Linked DNA regions of Homo sapiens. The protein of the gene in region 2 interacts with the protein of the main gene of each other region in a pairwise test. Each region holds a gene or a part of one and is shown on either strand. Other genes may lie near its edges. The genes, in order: PRC1, KRT20, WASHC1 and ZC3H14.

Evidence for each region.
Region 1: the proteins of KRT20 (region 2) and PRC1 interact in a two-hybrid assay, tested with the Homo sapiens proteins (one large-scale study listed by BioGRID and IntAct).
Region 3: the proteins of KRT20 (region 2) and WASHC1 interact in a two-hybrid assay, tested with the Homo sapiens proteins (one large-scale study listed by BioGRID).
Region 4: the proteins of KRT20 (region 2) and ZC3H14 interact in a two-hybrid assay, tested with the Homo sapiens proteins (one large-scale study listed by BioGRID and IntAct).

The regions. Positions count from the first base shown.
Region 1 is NC_000015.10:90,988,010-90,991,580, forward strand, and holds part of PRC1 (protein regulator of cytokinesis 1), read right to left. Parts: intron 616-3,571; exon of another isoform or gene 1-615. UniProt on the Homo sapiens protein: Key regulator of cytokinesis that cross-links antiparrallel microtubules at an average distance of 35 nM. Essential for controlling the spatiotemporal formation of the midzone and successful cytokinesis.
Region 2 is NC_000017.11:40,878,805-40,882,302, forward strand, and holds part of KRT20 (keratin, type I cytoskeletal 20 precursor), read right to left. Parts: intron 1,967-3,498; coding exon 1,810-1,966; intron 1,458-1,809; coding exon 1,296-1,457; intron 1,135-1,295; coding exon 1,009-1,134; intron 1-1,008. UniProt on the Homo sapiens protein: Plays a significant role in maintaining keratin filament organization in intestinal epithelia. When phosphorylated, plays a role in the secretion of mucin in the small intestine.
Region 3 is NC_000009.12:16,715-19,507, forward strand, and holds part of WASHC1 (WASH complex subunit 1), read right to left. Parts: exon of another isoform or gene 2,432-2,793; coding exon of another isoform or gene 2,312-2,431; intron 1,779-2,311; coding exon 1,667-1,778; intron 1,461-1,666; coding exon 1,314-1,460; intron 1,142-1,313; coding exon 1,005-1,141; intron 766-1,004; coding exon 630-765; intron 453-629; coding exon 251-452; intron 163-250; coding exon 4-162; intron 1-3. UniProt on the Homo sapiens protein: Acts as a component of the WASH core complex that functions as a nucleation-promoting factor (NPF) at the surface of endosomes, where it recruits and activates the Arp2/3 complex to induce actin polymerization, playing a key role in the fission of tubules that serve as transport intermediates during endosome sorting.
Region 4 is NC_000014.9:88,601,013-88,604,583, reverse strand, and holds part of ZC3H14 (zinc finger CCCH domain-containing protein 14), read right to left. Parts: intron 2,661-3,571; coding exon 2,501-2,660; intron 1,757-2,500; coding exon 1,524-1,756; intron 1-1,523. UniProt on the Homo sapiens protein: RNA-binding protein involved in the biogenesis of circular RNAs (circRNAs), which are produced by back-splicing circularization of pre-mRNAs.

The DNA.
Region 1 (3,571 bases), on a different chromosome or scaffold from region 2:
AGAATTTACGGTACTCCCTTCACTTTAGAAATGTTAACAGTTCAAGTCCAACAGAACTTAAAGGAAAAAAAGAGAAATGTTAACAGTAAGTAAGGCATTTATTTAACATAATCTCAACTAAAGTCCAACTAAAGAGCTTCCCCAGGCAAACACTCCTTTTGCACTTCATTTTGAAGACAAAAGAATGCACAAGTTAAAATCCTAATATTACCATTTTATTAAAAATAACTTTTAAGATCCAATCTGTGGCCAATATTCGATCTGGATGCAAAACCCTGGCTTCCAGACAGGCCAGCCAGGGGCACTGCTCTGAAGGTCATTACTTAAGTATCCCAGTCTCCTCAGTCTGACAGACCTACCCCTGCCCAGCCAATCTCCACATAACAGCTAGTTGTTCATAATAAATCCCATCAGATCCCCGCTTAACTACTCCCCTTCAAAGGCTCCACTGCCCTCAGGAAATAGTTCAACCACCTTCTGTAGAAAGGCCTTCTAAAACCTCTCTCCGAGTCTGTCTGCTAATCTCTCCCACTTGACACTCCCCAGGTCTCTGGCCAGCTGAACTTCCCGGGCATTTCCTGAACAATGCCCCTCAATAAACCACATGCAACTCTCATTTTCTGATGCCACCGCGCTTTGTACATTCAGTTCCGTCTATATGCCACCACCTCCTCTGGAGAGCTGTGGACTTGTCACTCACCATTCCCCCCAAGCCCCCTAGTAGACCATAAACTCAAGGGCAAGGACCACCACATCTTATTCATCTTCATTTTACCACACCCTAACTCACAGTAGTTGTTCAATAGATATAAAATGAATGGCCCTGAATTCCTCCCAAAGGGTCCTATGCTCCTAACCTACCTAACCTAATAGAGGTATTATGCACTCTGGATCCTGACGAAGGTTTACAAGCAGGGCTGCCTATCTCTGTAACACATCTAGAAGGTAAAGTGATCGTTTTTCTGAGTAAAAAAATCTAGCACAATGGGCAAAGAATCTGAATAGACATTTCTCCAAAGAAGATATAAAAATGGCCAATAAGCACATGAAAAGATGCTCAATATTAGTCATTAGGGAAATGCAAATCAAAACCACTTCATAGCCAACAGGATGGTATAATAAAAAAAAATATATAGCAAAAAGTATTGGTGAGAATCTAGAGGAACTAGAACCCTCAGACACTGCTTGTGGGCATGCAAGACGGTACAGCCTCTTTGGAAAATAGTCTGGTAGTTCCTCAATTGATTTTTTGTTTTTTGAGACAGGGCCTCACTGTCACCTGGGCTGGAGTGCAGTGGTGTGATCATAGCTCAACGCAGCCTCAACGCCCTGGGCTCAAGCAATTCTCCTACCTTAGTCTCCCAAGTAGCTGGGACCATAGACGTGCCATCGTGCTTGGCTAATTTTTTTTTTTTTTTTTTTTTTTAAGGTTTGCCATGTTGCTCAGGCTGGTCTTGAACTCCTGGGCCCAAGCAATCCTCCCACCTCGGCCTCCCAAAGTGTTGGGATAACAGACATGAGCCACTGCACCCGGCCCCTCAGTTTAACAGAGTTCATACAACTCAGCAATTTTATTACTGGGTATTTGCCCAAAAGAAATGAAAACACATTTATACAAAAACTACACAACTGTTTATAGCAGCATTACTTATAATAGCCAAAAAGTGAAAAAAAAAATACAAATGGCCATCAACTTATGAATGGGTAAATAAAATGTAGTATATAGGCATACAATGGAATATTATTTGGCAATAAACCTTGAAAACATTATGTTAAGTCAAAGAAGCAAGTCACAAAAGACCAGAGCTACGGTTCCGTTTTTATGAAATATCCAGAATAGGTAAAAAGTAGATTTGGGGTTTGTATGGTTTTTTGAGACAGGGTCTCCCTCTTTCACCTAGGCTGGAGTGCAGTAACATGATCATGGCTCACTGCAGCCCCAACTTCCTAGGCTCAGGTGATCCTCCCACCTGAGCCTCCGGAGTAGCTGGGACTACAGATGTGAGCCACCACACCCAGCTAACTTAAACAATAAAATTTTTTTTTAGGCCGGGTGCGGTGGATCACTCCTGTAATCCCAGCACTTTGGGTGCCAAGACCGGCGGATCACGAGGTCAGGAGTTTGAGACCAGCCTGGCCAATATGGTGAAACCCCGTCTCTACTAAAAATACAAAAATTAGCTGGGTGTGGTGGTGGGCACCTGTAATCTCAGCTACTCGGGAGGCTGAGGCAGGAGAATTGCTTGAATCCGGGAGGTGGAGGTTGCAGTGACCTGAGATCACGTCACTGCACTCCAGCCTGGGTGACAGAGTGAGACTCCATCTCAAAAAATAAAATAAAATAAAATAAAAAATAAAATAAATAAATAAATAAATAAATAATTTTTTTTTTTTTTTTAAGAGGTAGAGTCTCTCTATGTTGCCCAAGCTGTTCTTGAACTCCTGGGCTCAAGTAGTCCTCCCACCTTGGGCTCCCAAAGTGCTGGAATTATAGGTGTGCGCCACCTTGCCTAGCCGAAAAGTAGATTTGTAGTTGCGGCTGGGGAGAATTTGGACCATGGGGTGAAAGGGGATTGACTGCTAATGGGATTTTAAAGGGGTGATAAAAATGTTCTAAAATTGATTGCAGTGATGATTGCACAACTCTGAATATTCTAAAAATCACTGAATTATAATATACAATTTAAGTACATTGTATGGTATGTGGATTATACCTCAAAGCTGTTATTAAAAACATCTTGGCACATAATCTAAAACATTTTTGGTTTCTTTTTTTTTTCTTTTTTTGAGACAGAGTCTCAGTCTGGCACCCAGGCCGGAGTGCAATGGTGTGATCTCAGCTCACTGCAACCTCTGCCTTCTGGGATCAAGCGATTCTCCTGCCTCAGCCTCCTGAGTAGCTGGGACTACAGGCACACGGCACCACGCCCGGCTAATTTTTGTATTTTTAGTAGAGACGGGGTTTCACCATGTTGGTCAGGCTGGTCTCAAACTCCTGACCTCGTGATCCGACCGCCTCGGCCTCCCAAAGTGCTGGGATTACAGGCGTGAGCCACTGTGCCCGGCCCATAATCTGAAATGTTTTTGATTTGTGACTTAATTGAAAAACTTACAGATTTTTACTATGGCCGGGCGCGGTGGCTCGTGTGCAATCCCAGCACTTTGGGAGGCCAAGGCGGGCGGATCACCTGAGATCAGGAGCTCGAGACCAGCCTGGCCAACATGGTGAAACCCCATCTCTACTAGAAATACAAAAATTAGCTGGGCGTGGTAGTGGGTGCCTGTAATCCCAGATACTCAGGAGGCTGAGGCAGGAGAATCACTTGAACCCGGTGAACCCAGGAGGCGGAGGTTGCAGTGAGCTGAGATCATGCCATTGCACTCCAGCCTGGGCAACAGAGCAAGACTGTCTCCAAAAAAAAAAAGAAATAAAAATTTTACTAATATATAACGTATTTTATTTGGCCTGTTGGAAATGGGTGTTTGGAATTACCAAACACCCATTATTATTATTCTAGTTAGAGACACTTCCTGTAAGAGGATCATTTTCAAATTAAAAACTAACATTTCT
Region 2 (3,498 bases):
TTTCTTTTTTTTTTTGGGACGGAGTCTTGCTCTGTCGCCCAGGCTGGAGTGCAGTAATGTGATCGCAGCTCACTGCAACCTCTGCCTCCTGGGTTCAAGCGATTCTCCTGCCTCAACCTCCCAAGTAGCTGGGATTACAGGCACACACCACCATGCCCAGCTTATTTTTGTATCTTTAGTAGAGATGGGGTTTCACCATATTGGCCAGCTGGTCTCAACCTCCTGACCTCAAATGATCCTCCTGCCTTGGCCTCCCAAAGGACAAATGCCTTTTCTAAGGAGAAGCTTTAAGAGCTATCAAGTGGACCAACCATTGCTCTTTTCTTTCTGCCAGGACACTGGCATGTCCTAGGTAGGGCCTACCCCTTTAGCCTTGCCCTTGGAAAGGAAATGTCACGGTGGATGTAGTATCATGGCTGCAGGCCACTGTGGTTTGAGGGATTCTGCTTACCACAACATAATTTGTCATGGGCTTGCTGATTTGCTTGGCCTGGAATGTCTCTAGTCCATTCTCCATCTTAAAATTTTATCTTAGATTTTGAGATCTGGTATAATGGACACATACAGGGGAATAGCAGACATGGGGGCCTAACAGAGGGTGGAGGGTAGGAGGAGGGAGAGGATCAGGAAAAATAACCAATGGGTATTAGGTTTAATACCTGAGTGATGAAATAACCTGTACAACAAATCCCCATGACACAAGTTTAACTACATCATAAATCTGCACATGTACTCCTGAACTTAAAAGTTACAAGAAGATCTGGTTTAAATGCCACTTTCCCTGTGAAATCTTCCAGATTTACTCTTTCCTCTGCATTCATGCAGTACATTGCCCTTTCCTCGATTTCTCTCTGTCCTTTAATTATAATCAGTTGTTCGGCCTGTTTCCCTGCCAGTTCTGCAAGGGGAAGGGTTATTTCTTGTAGGTCTTTGCATTTCTATAGTTCCTAACAGAGGACCTTGGTAAACACATACTAGATTGAGAAAGAGAAGTTAGATATGCTTTACCATGCTGAGATGGGACTGGAGTTCTATCTCAAGGCTCTGGGAGGTGCGTCTCAGCTCCGTTAGTTGAACCTCAGTTCCTTTTAATTCTTCAGTATTCACTGTGACCTGTTGCTGCAGAACTGCAGTCTACAGTGCCAAGAGTGAAAAAAAAATAGTTGAGGGGTGGAAATAAGAAAGAAAAGACAGAAAGAGAAAGGAAGAATGAACAAATGAAAAAGAAAATGAGTTATCTGTTTCTGGAGGAAAGCATCTACACGTTTGCTCACCCTTTAGAATTGTGTGGTTACCTGTCTCTCAAACTGTTCTTTGGCCTCTTGAAGGTTCTTCTGGGCCATGACTTCATACTTCTGCCTCATTTCATTCATGATGACGCCAAGGTTCAGGCCTGGAGCAGCATCAACCTCCACATTGACAGTGTTGCCCAGATGCTTGTGTAGGCCATCGACTTCCTATGAAAGTGAAATTTCTGATTGATTTTAGTCTGAAGCACATTCTCAGATAAGGCTGGGCAGAAAAGACATAAGGAGTCTCATGACCTCTTTCATTGGGAATAAGTAAAAAAGATATAAAATAATAACTTGTGTTGGGCTTATTGTGGTCCAGGTGCTGCTCTAAGTCATTTAACTTACAACAACATTATGAAAAGAAGGTAGGGCTTGTATCATTATTGTCATCGTCATCATCTCTGTCACTATCACCACCAACTCTTCCCCCTTCTCCTGTTTCTCCCGCTCCTCCTATTATTAGTATTATATAGAACCATTCCATTGTTTCCAATACCACTTCTGAATATTTTCTCACCTCCTGATGCTCCTTTTTGAGGAGAGCTAGGTCTTTATTCAGTTCTTCAATTTGAATCTCCAAATCTGTTTTATGTAGGGTTAGGTCATCAAAGACCTTATTCAGGCCTTGGAGATCAGCTTCCACTGTTAGACGTATTCCTCTCTCAGTCTCATACCTGTGAATTAATTAGTGTACAGAGATAACTGGTCCTTCTGAAGCCATTATAAGGAGAGAATCTAATATAATGGGATAGGTTTTTAAATGTGGCTTATGAGGAGATCAATTTCAATACTTTATAATGTCTGCCTTTACACAATCATGAAATTTACATAAGAACCTAGGAGTCAGAAAATGTGCTCAATAATATAATCTCTATAATTTGGGGTGACTGGTAAAAAGGCAATCTGAAATAATTTTGAACACTTCTAAATTCTAGAATTTATCTTATAAGAAATTAAATTGTGTTAATTATTGTGTTGGCAAAGGGTTCTTATTATTGATATTAAATAATGGTTAGTTTTACTTAATGAATGTACATGATCGATTTATTTTTATTACTTTGTGAACAGAGACATCCAAAGTGAATTATCTCAAACAGCTCTACATCCTCCTCTACAATCTTACATACACACTGTGTGTGTGTGTGTGTGTGTGTGTGTGTGTGTGTATTTGAGACAGGGTCCCACTCTGTCACTCAGGCTGGAGTACAATGGTGTGATCATGGCTCACTGCAGCCTCAACCTTTGGGGCTCAAGCAATCCTCTCACCTCAGCCTCCCAAGTAGCTGGGACAGCAGATGTATGCCACCATGCCCAGCTAATTTTTTTTGTATTTTTGTATAGAGATGTGGTTTTGCCACGTTGCCCAAGCTGTTCTCAAACTCCAGGACTCAAGTGAGCCTCCTGCCTCAGCCTCTCAAAGTGCTGGGATTACAGGCGTTAGCCATCATGCATGCCCTGCCCAGTTTCCTAAAATATCCAACTTTAAAAAATGACACTGCAATGTGACACTCAGTGCTAGGTAAAATTGGAAGTAATGCACCTTTACTGCTTTCATCTTTGGATTTGATTTCCTATTTCCTTCTTGTTAATCCCTTGGAGCATTAAAAGGCTACCCTTCTAACCACAAAGGGCTTTTTGGTGTTAATGCATTGTACAAATTCAGGATGAAGAGGCCTTAGTGTGGAAGCTGTTTGCAAGGAACAGGTCTGGTCACATGTGGTGTGATGACTACAAAGAAAGTGAACACAATTTTTACTTTCTTTTTCTTTTCTTTCTTTCTTCCTTTTTTTTTTTGAGACAAGGTCTCAGTCTGTTGCCCAGGTTGCAGTGCAATGGCACGATCTCAGCTCACTGAAACCTCCGCCTCCCAGGTTCAAGCGATTCTCCTGCCTCAGCCTCCGGAGTAGCTGGGATTACAGACATACGGCATCACGCCCAGCTAATTATTATAGATTGGTCCTGGTTCTTTGGTTGGCCAGACCATCCTGTAAAACACTGGCAAGCCAGAAATCATCAAGAGTCACCCCTGGAACTTGGGTCATACACTTGCAGGCACTTGAATGAACGTGGAGAATTACTTGGAGAATCACCAAGGGTAGACACAAGACTCTCTTTAGATAACAGAAAGGCACTTAGGGAGAAGGAGAATTGTAAATTACTTTGTTATTACTCCAAAGGGCAGAATTAGGTTTAGATACCAGGTTAC
Region 3 (2,793 bases), on a different chromosome or scaffold from region 2:
CACCTGAAGGAGATGCGCTGCTGCTGCTGTCGTCCTGCCTGGCGCCTTGGCCTACAGGGGCCGCGGTTGAGGGTGGGAGTGGGGGTGCACTGGCCAGCACCTCAGGAGCTGGGGGTGGTGGTGGGGGCGGTGGGGGTGGTGTTAGTACCCCATCTTGTAGGTCTGAAACACAAAGTGTGGGGTGTCTAGGGAAGAAGGTGTGTGAGCAGGGAGGTCCCCGGCCCAGCTCCCATCCCAGAACCCAGCTCACCTACCTTGAGAGGCTCGGCTACCTCAGTGTGGAAGGTGGGCAGTTCTGGAATGGTGCCAGGGGCAGAGGGGGCAATGCCGGGGCCCAGGTCGGCACTGTACATGAGGTCGTTGGCAATGCCGGGCAGGTCAGGCAGGTAGGATGGAACATGGATCTCAGGCACCTGGCCCAGGTCTGGCACATAGAAGTAGTTCTCTGGGACCTGCAAGATTAGGCAGGGACATGTGAGAGGTGACAGGGACCTGCAGGGGCAGCCAACAAGACCTTGTGTGCACCTCCCATGGGTGGAATAAGGGGCCCAACAGCCTTGACTGGAGAGGAGCTCTGGCAAGGCCCTGGGCCACTGCACCTGTCTCCACCTCTGTCCCACCCCTCCCACCTGCTGTTCCAGCTGCTCTCTCTTGCTGATGGACAAGGGGGCATCAAACAGCTTCTCCTCTGTCTCTGCCCCCAGCATCACATGGGTCTTTGTTACAGCACCAGCCAGGGGGTCCAGGAAGACATACTTCTTGTACCTACGGAGGCGACATGGGGGTCAGGCAAGCTGACACCCGCTGTCCTGAGCCCATGTTCCTCTCCCACATCATCAGGGGCACAGTGTGCACTGTGGGGTCCCAGGCCTCCCGAGCCGAGCCACCCCAGTCACCCCCTGGCTCCTGGCCTATGTGCTGTACCTGTGTCTGATGCCCTGGGTCCCCACTAAGCCAGGCCGGGCCTCCCGCCCACACCCCTCGGCCCTGCCCTCTGGCCATACAGGTTCTCGGTGGTGTTGAAGAGCAGCAAGGAGCTGACAGAGCTGATGTTGCTGGGAAGACCCCCAAGTCCCTCTTCTGCATCGTCCTCGGGCTCCGGCTTGGTGCTCACGCACACAGGAAAGTCCTTCAGCTTCTCCTGAGAGGGCCAGGATGGCCAAGGGATGGTGAATATTTGGTGCTGGGCCTAATCAGCTGCCATCCCATCCCAGTCAGCCTCCTCTGGGGGACAGAACCCTATGGTGGCCCCGGCTCCTCCCCAGTATCCAGTCCTCCTGGTGTGTGACAGGCTATATGCGCGGCCAGCAGACCTGCAGGGCCCGCTCGTCCAGGGGGCGGTGCTTGCTCTGGATCCTGTGGCGGGGGCGTCTCTGCAGGCCAGGGTCCTGGGCGCCCGTGAAGATGGAGCCATATTCCTGCAGGCGCCCTGGAGCAGGGTACTTGGCACTGGAGAACACCTGTGGACACAGGGACAAGTCTGAGGGGGCCCCAAGAGGCTCAGAGGGCTAGGATTGCTTGGCAGGAGAGGGTGGAGTTGGAAGCCTGGGCGAGAAGAAAGCTCAAGGTACAGGTGGGCAGCAGGGCAGAGACTGGGCAGCCTCAGAGGCACGGGGAAATGGAGGGACTGCCCAGTAGCCTCAGGACACAGGGGTATGGGGACTACCTTGATGGCCTTCTTGCTGCCCTTGATCTTCTCAATCTTGGCCTGGGCCAAGGAGACCTTCTCTCCAATGGCCTGCACCTGGCTCCGGCTCTGCTCTACCTGCTGGGAGATCCTGCCATGGAGAAGATCACAGAGGCTGGGCTGCTCCCCACCCTCTGCACACCTCCTGCTTCTAACAGCAGAGCTGCCAGGCCAGGCCCTCAGGCAAGGGCTCTGAAGTCAGGGTCACCTACTTGCCAGGGCCGATCTTGGTGCCATCCAGGGGGCCTCTACAAGGATAATCTGACCTGCAGGGTCGAGGAGTTGACGGTGCTGAGTTCCCTGCACTCTCAGAAGGGACAGGCCCTATGCTGCCACCTGTACATGCTATCTGAAGGACAGCCTCCAGGGCACACAGAGGATGGTATTTACACATGCACACATGGCTACTGATGGGGCAAGCACTTCACAACCCCTCATGATCACGTGCAGCAGACAATGTGGCCTCTGCAGAGGGGGAACGGAGACCGGAGGCTGAGACTGGCAAGGCTGGACCTGAGTGTCGTCACCTAAATTCAGACGGGGAACTGCCCCTGCACATAGTGAACGGCTCACTGAGCAAACCCCGAGTCCCGACCACCGCCTCAGTGTGGTCTAGCTCCTCACCTGCTTCCATCCTCCCTGGTGCGGGGTGGGCCCAGTGATATCAGCTGCCTGCTGTTCCCCAGATGTGCCAAGTGCATTCTTGTGTGCTTGCATCTCATGGAACGCCATTTCCCCAGACATCCCTGTGGCTGGCTCCTGATGCCCGAGGCCCAAGTGTCTGATGCTTTAAGGCACATCACCCCACTCATGCTTTTCCATGTTCTTTGGCCGCAGCAAGGCCGCTCTCACTGCAAAGTTAACTCTGATGCGTGTGTAACACAACATCCTCCTCCCAGTCGCCCCTGTAGCTCCCCTACCTCCAAGAGCCCAGCCCTTGCCCACAGGGCCATACTCCACGTGCAGAGCAGCCTCAGCACTCACCGGGCACGAGCGAGCCTGTGTGGTGCGCAGGGATGAGAAGGCAGAGGCGCGACTGGGGTTCATGAGGAAGGGCAGGAGGAGGGTGTGGGATGGTGGAGGGGTTTGAGAAGGCAGAGGCGCGA
Region 4 (3,571 bases), on a different chromosome or scaffold from region 2:
TAAAATCTGTGCTGCCATATGACAGTGAGTGAAAAGACAGCAGGTTAAAACAGATGTTGTTGTTGGTAGCATCCTTGAAACAACCCAACATAAAACCAACCAGAAGCAATTGCAGTTTCAAACTCCCTGCTCACAGGGGAAGTGGTGCAGAGACTAGAGACTCCTGAGAACTGTTCTGCAGGAGTCTCTCCAGCCACACCCCTATGCTAATCTTACAAAGCTTCATCCTTGAGCAGCAGGGAAACACTGAGTCCCCAGTCAAAGCAATGGGAAAGGAGGCTCACCACTCATCATGGCTGTCAGCACAATGGCCACAGCACTGGCAAGAATTTTTACTAACATATTATTTATGGTGTCACTGCTGCTACATGTATACCCCATAAAGCCTCATATGGACACCTACATTTAAATGAAACCAGATCCTAATAGACCAAAAAATTAAGGTACCAAATTGAAAATCAAGAGTAGTGAAAACACTGGAGTCTTCTCTTTAGACAAAACATACAGAGTCAATAAATCGGGACTGCCTACTGCAGCTTTTACTATTTTTTAAGTTTTTCTTCCTGTTGATAGGGTCAGATTTTCAACTCCCTCCACTAATCAAAACCACGACACTACGTCATTGATTCACAGTAGGAAACGCAACCAATTAAAATAAAGCTAAGTGTTATTGCTCCACTAACATATGATTTCCCTCTGAAGTCTATTCTATTTTTAATGATCGAGAAAGGTATTCAATACATTTTCATATCTCTTCCAAGAAGAGGATTACTCAAGGAAATGTTTCAAAATCCATTACTGTTTTTCCTTTGAATCTGTACGCTTTTAAGATTGAGTAATTATCCCTCCTGCCAATGAAGAGGTGCTTCTAAATATTTTAGAAGATATAAGGAACATAATTACCATTCTCTATCATGAATGGAAATGATCAGTGGCGTTGCAGCTACCACTGATACCCAGTGAAAGAAACGGTGATAAGAAACTGTCACCTGCCAAAAACTATGGTGCTATCTGAAATGAGTTCATCTGAGTTCTGCTAAATATTACTCTTCAACATTAATTTAAACAGTTCCAAGATCTTGATAGATTAGGTGAGAAACTCCTTTCAAAGAAATTTCACTGAGGTAGAAATAGCATCAAATCTAAATTTTTCTCTCAAGTTAATTGCAAGAGACTATTGCTGATAAAAGGGCAAAGTGGCAGTACAGTTTCTGAAGAAAATACAAAGGTAAAGAAGGCAACAAGAATGGTGGTTCATCCTTTAGCCAGCATAAGCGGAAGAGGTCTCTCAGGTTCCATGGCTGAACTCCGTTTTCAAACTGGAGTAACAGCCCACCTATGAAAAAGACACAGGAAAAAGAGTCTGAAATGTACTTGGTGGGTTTGTCTGAAAGAAGAAAAAAGGCCATTACTGAATATAAATAAAAGCAAGGCCTTTAACCAATATTCATTCAAGGTAGAGAAACAAGTCAAAGATTCCCTTCACAATGACAGCACCCTGAAAATCTGAGCTCTCAACACACCGTTAGAAAAGCTACCATTTGGGTCCTCAAGCTGCCTGCTCAGCAAGTGCAACTGCTGTGGGTGGAGGAGACCTCTGAGTCCCTTGTTTGAGGCTGCAGTTTGGTTTACGGGTTTCATTCCTTCAAAGCACATGTCCTCCTCTTGATCTGACATGTATCCTGGGGGGCTGGGGACACCATCCAGCGTCACTATAAACTTGGGACTTGCAGGTTTATCTGGTTGTACAAGATCTCTGCCAGACAGATAAAAAATACCATAGAATTAGGGAAACAAACACAAAACGCTGAGCCCCCTAAAGTGCTCTTCAGCAGAACTATCACTCCCTTGGCTTTGCGTTTGGTTCAATAAAAAAAGACTAGGTAGGGCTACCAGGTGCAGCACTGGTGGGTTCTCTGCTAACACACGATGGCCATGAACAGTCACAGTGGCATCACCAGTGACCCTCCAGCCTGTACTTACTAAGGACAATCTCCCCTCAAGCCTGACCCCATCACCCATTCGATCTTCATAGGGTCAACATGGAAACAAACCAAAAAATTAGCATCAATGCTCAGAACACAAGGGCCAGCAGCATTTATGCTAATTATCTGTATGTTTCTTCTTTTATAGAAACAGTCAATTTTCTAAGGGAAAAATCACCCAAACCTGATCTGCCAACTCTCTTTAGAGCTGACCTGATTATGGTCAGCTGGCTTTTAAACTTGCATTTCCTGAATTTGCATAAAGAAAAGAATCTTTAATAGAGTTAAATCATACACTGAGTTGTAATTTGTAGGTTAATGGATTTCTGAACAAGAAAGATGAACTGGAATTCTTGAAAACTGAATTTGGCTAACTATTCATGGGCTAGCTACTGAATCAATGAAAGCACTCTACGCTAGCGGTTAGGGCGGGGAGGAGGGAAGCTGCAAACGAATGGTTAACCTTTACTATCTAATCACACAAATTAACTACACAAGAAAAAGAAACCATCTACCGTGTCTGCATAAGGTGTCCTGAAAGTACCCGAAGGGAATCTGCAGTCTTCATCCCCGACTCTTGGTTTGGTGCCACTACTACTTCCTCAGACAGCTTTGGCTTCTTCAGAATAAATGATCTTGTGTCTGCATGGACCATGGATTCCATGTCATAGTAATCTGAGCCAAAAAAATTGGCCACAAATGTTTACTTTTGAATATACCTTACATTCCCAACATTATATATGTGAGAAGAATGTCAATCTTTTATATATTCAAATTATTTCAAAGGAAAATCACAACTGGTTCCACTCAGGAAAACAGGGCTATAATTCTATTCCAAACATGTTTTCAAAGAACTCAAGGAGTCCTTCTCGCGTAGGGCACGGCACAAGTGATTCTGATTAACACTCCCTAACCACAGCAGAGAAAGGTTCTCAGGTGAGGCATCTCAACAGATATTAACAATATACCCTTAAAGTACAAAAATCTTTTCTAAAAACCTGGAGAATTTGAGTCCTAATGCTCCCTATAATTAGAATACACAGACTGCTGAACCACTTTTCCAAAATCTGGTTTGTTCACTTCGCACAGTACCACTTAGAATCATGTCCTGATAAAAAGAATTCAAGTGGTATAATTTCCAGTTGGTTATAAACCGAGGACTACTTTAAAAGGTAACTGAAAGGTGAATGGACACTTAAACATATGTATCAAGAAAAACACTGGCCTTTAATGCAAATAACCATAAGCTCACATCATCTACTATTTTATAAAATATGCCAAGACCTACAACCCAGAATGGCTGACCTATCAATACGCCATCAACGGACTGAAGTTAATACACTTCTTTTAAAGCTTAGAGACCAAAATTTACAGGGTATTCATTTATGTTCATTCACTGAGTATTTACTGAACAACTAAGAGAACTGAGCTAGATACACAAAGAAAAAAAGAAAAACAGACACATATACAATTTCAGAATAGCATGACCCAAAAGGGATGTGAACAAGGTGCTGAGAATACAGAACAGCCCACTCCAGCCAAGAACCAACGAAAAGCTTAGCAAGGAGGAACATCTGAAGTCAGCA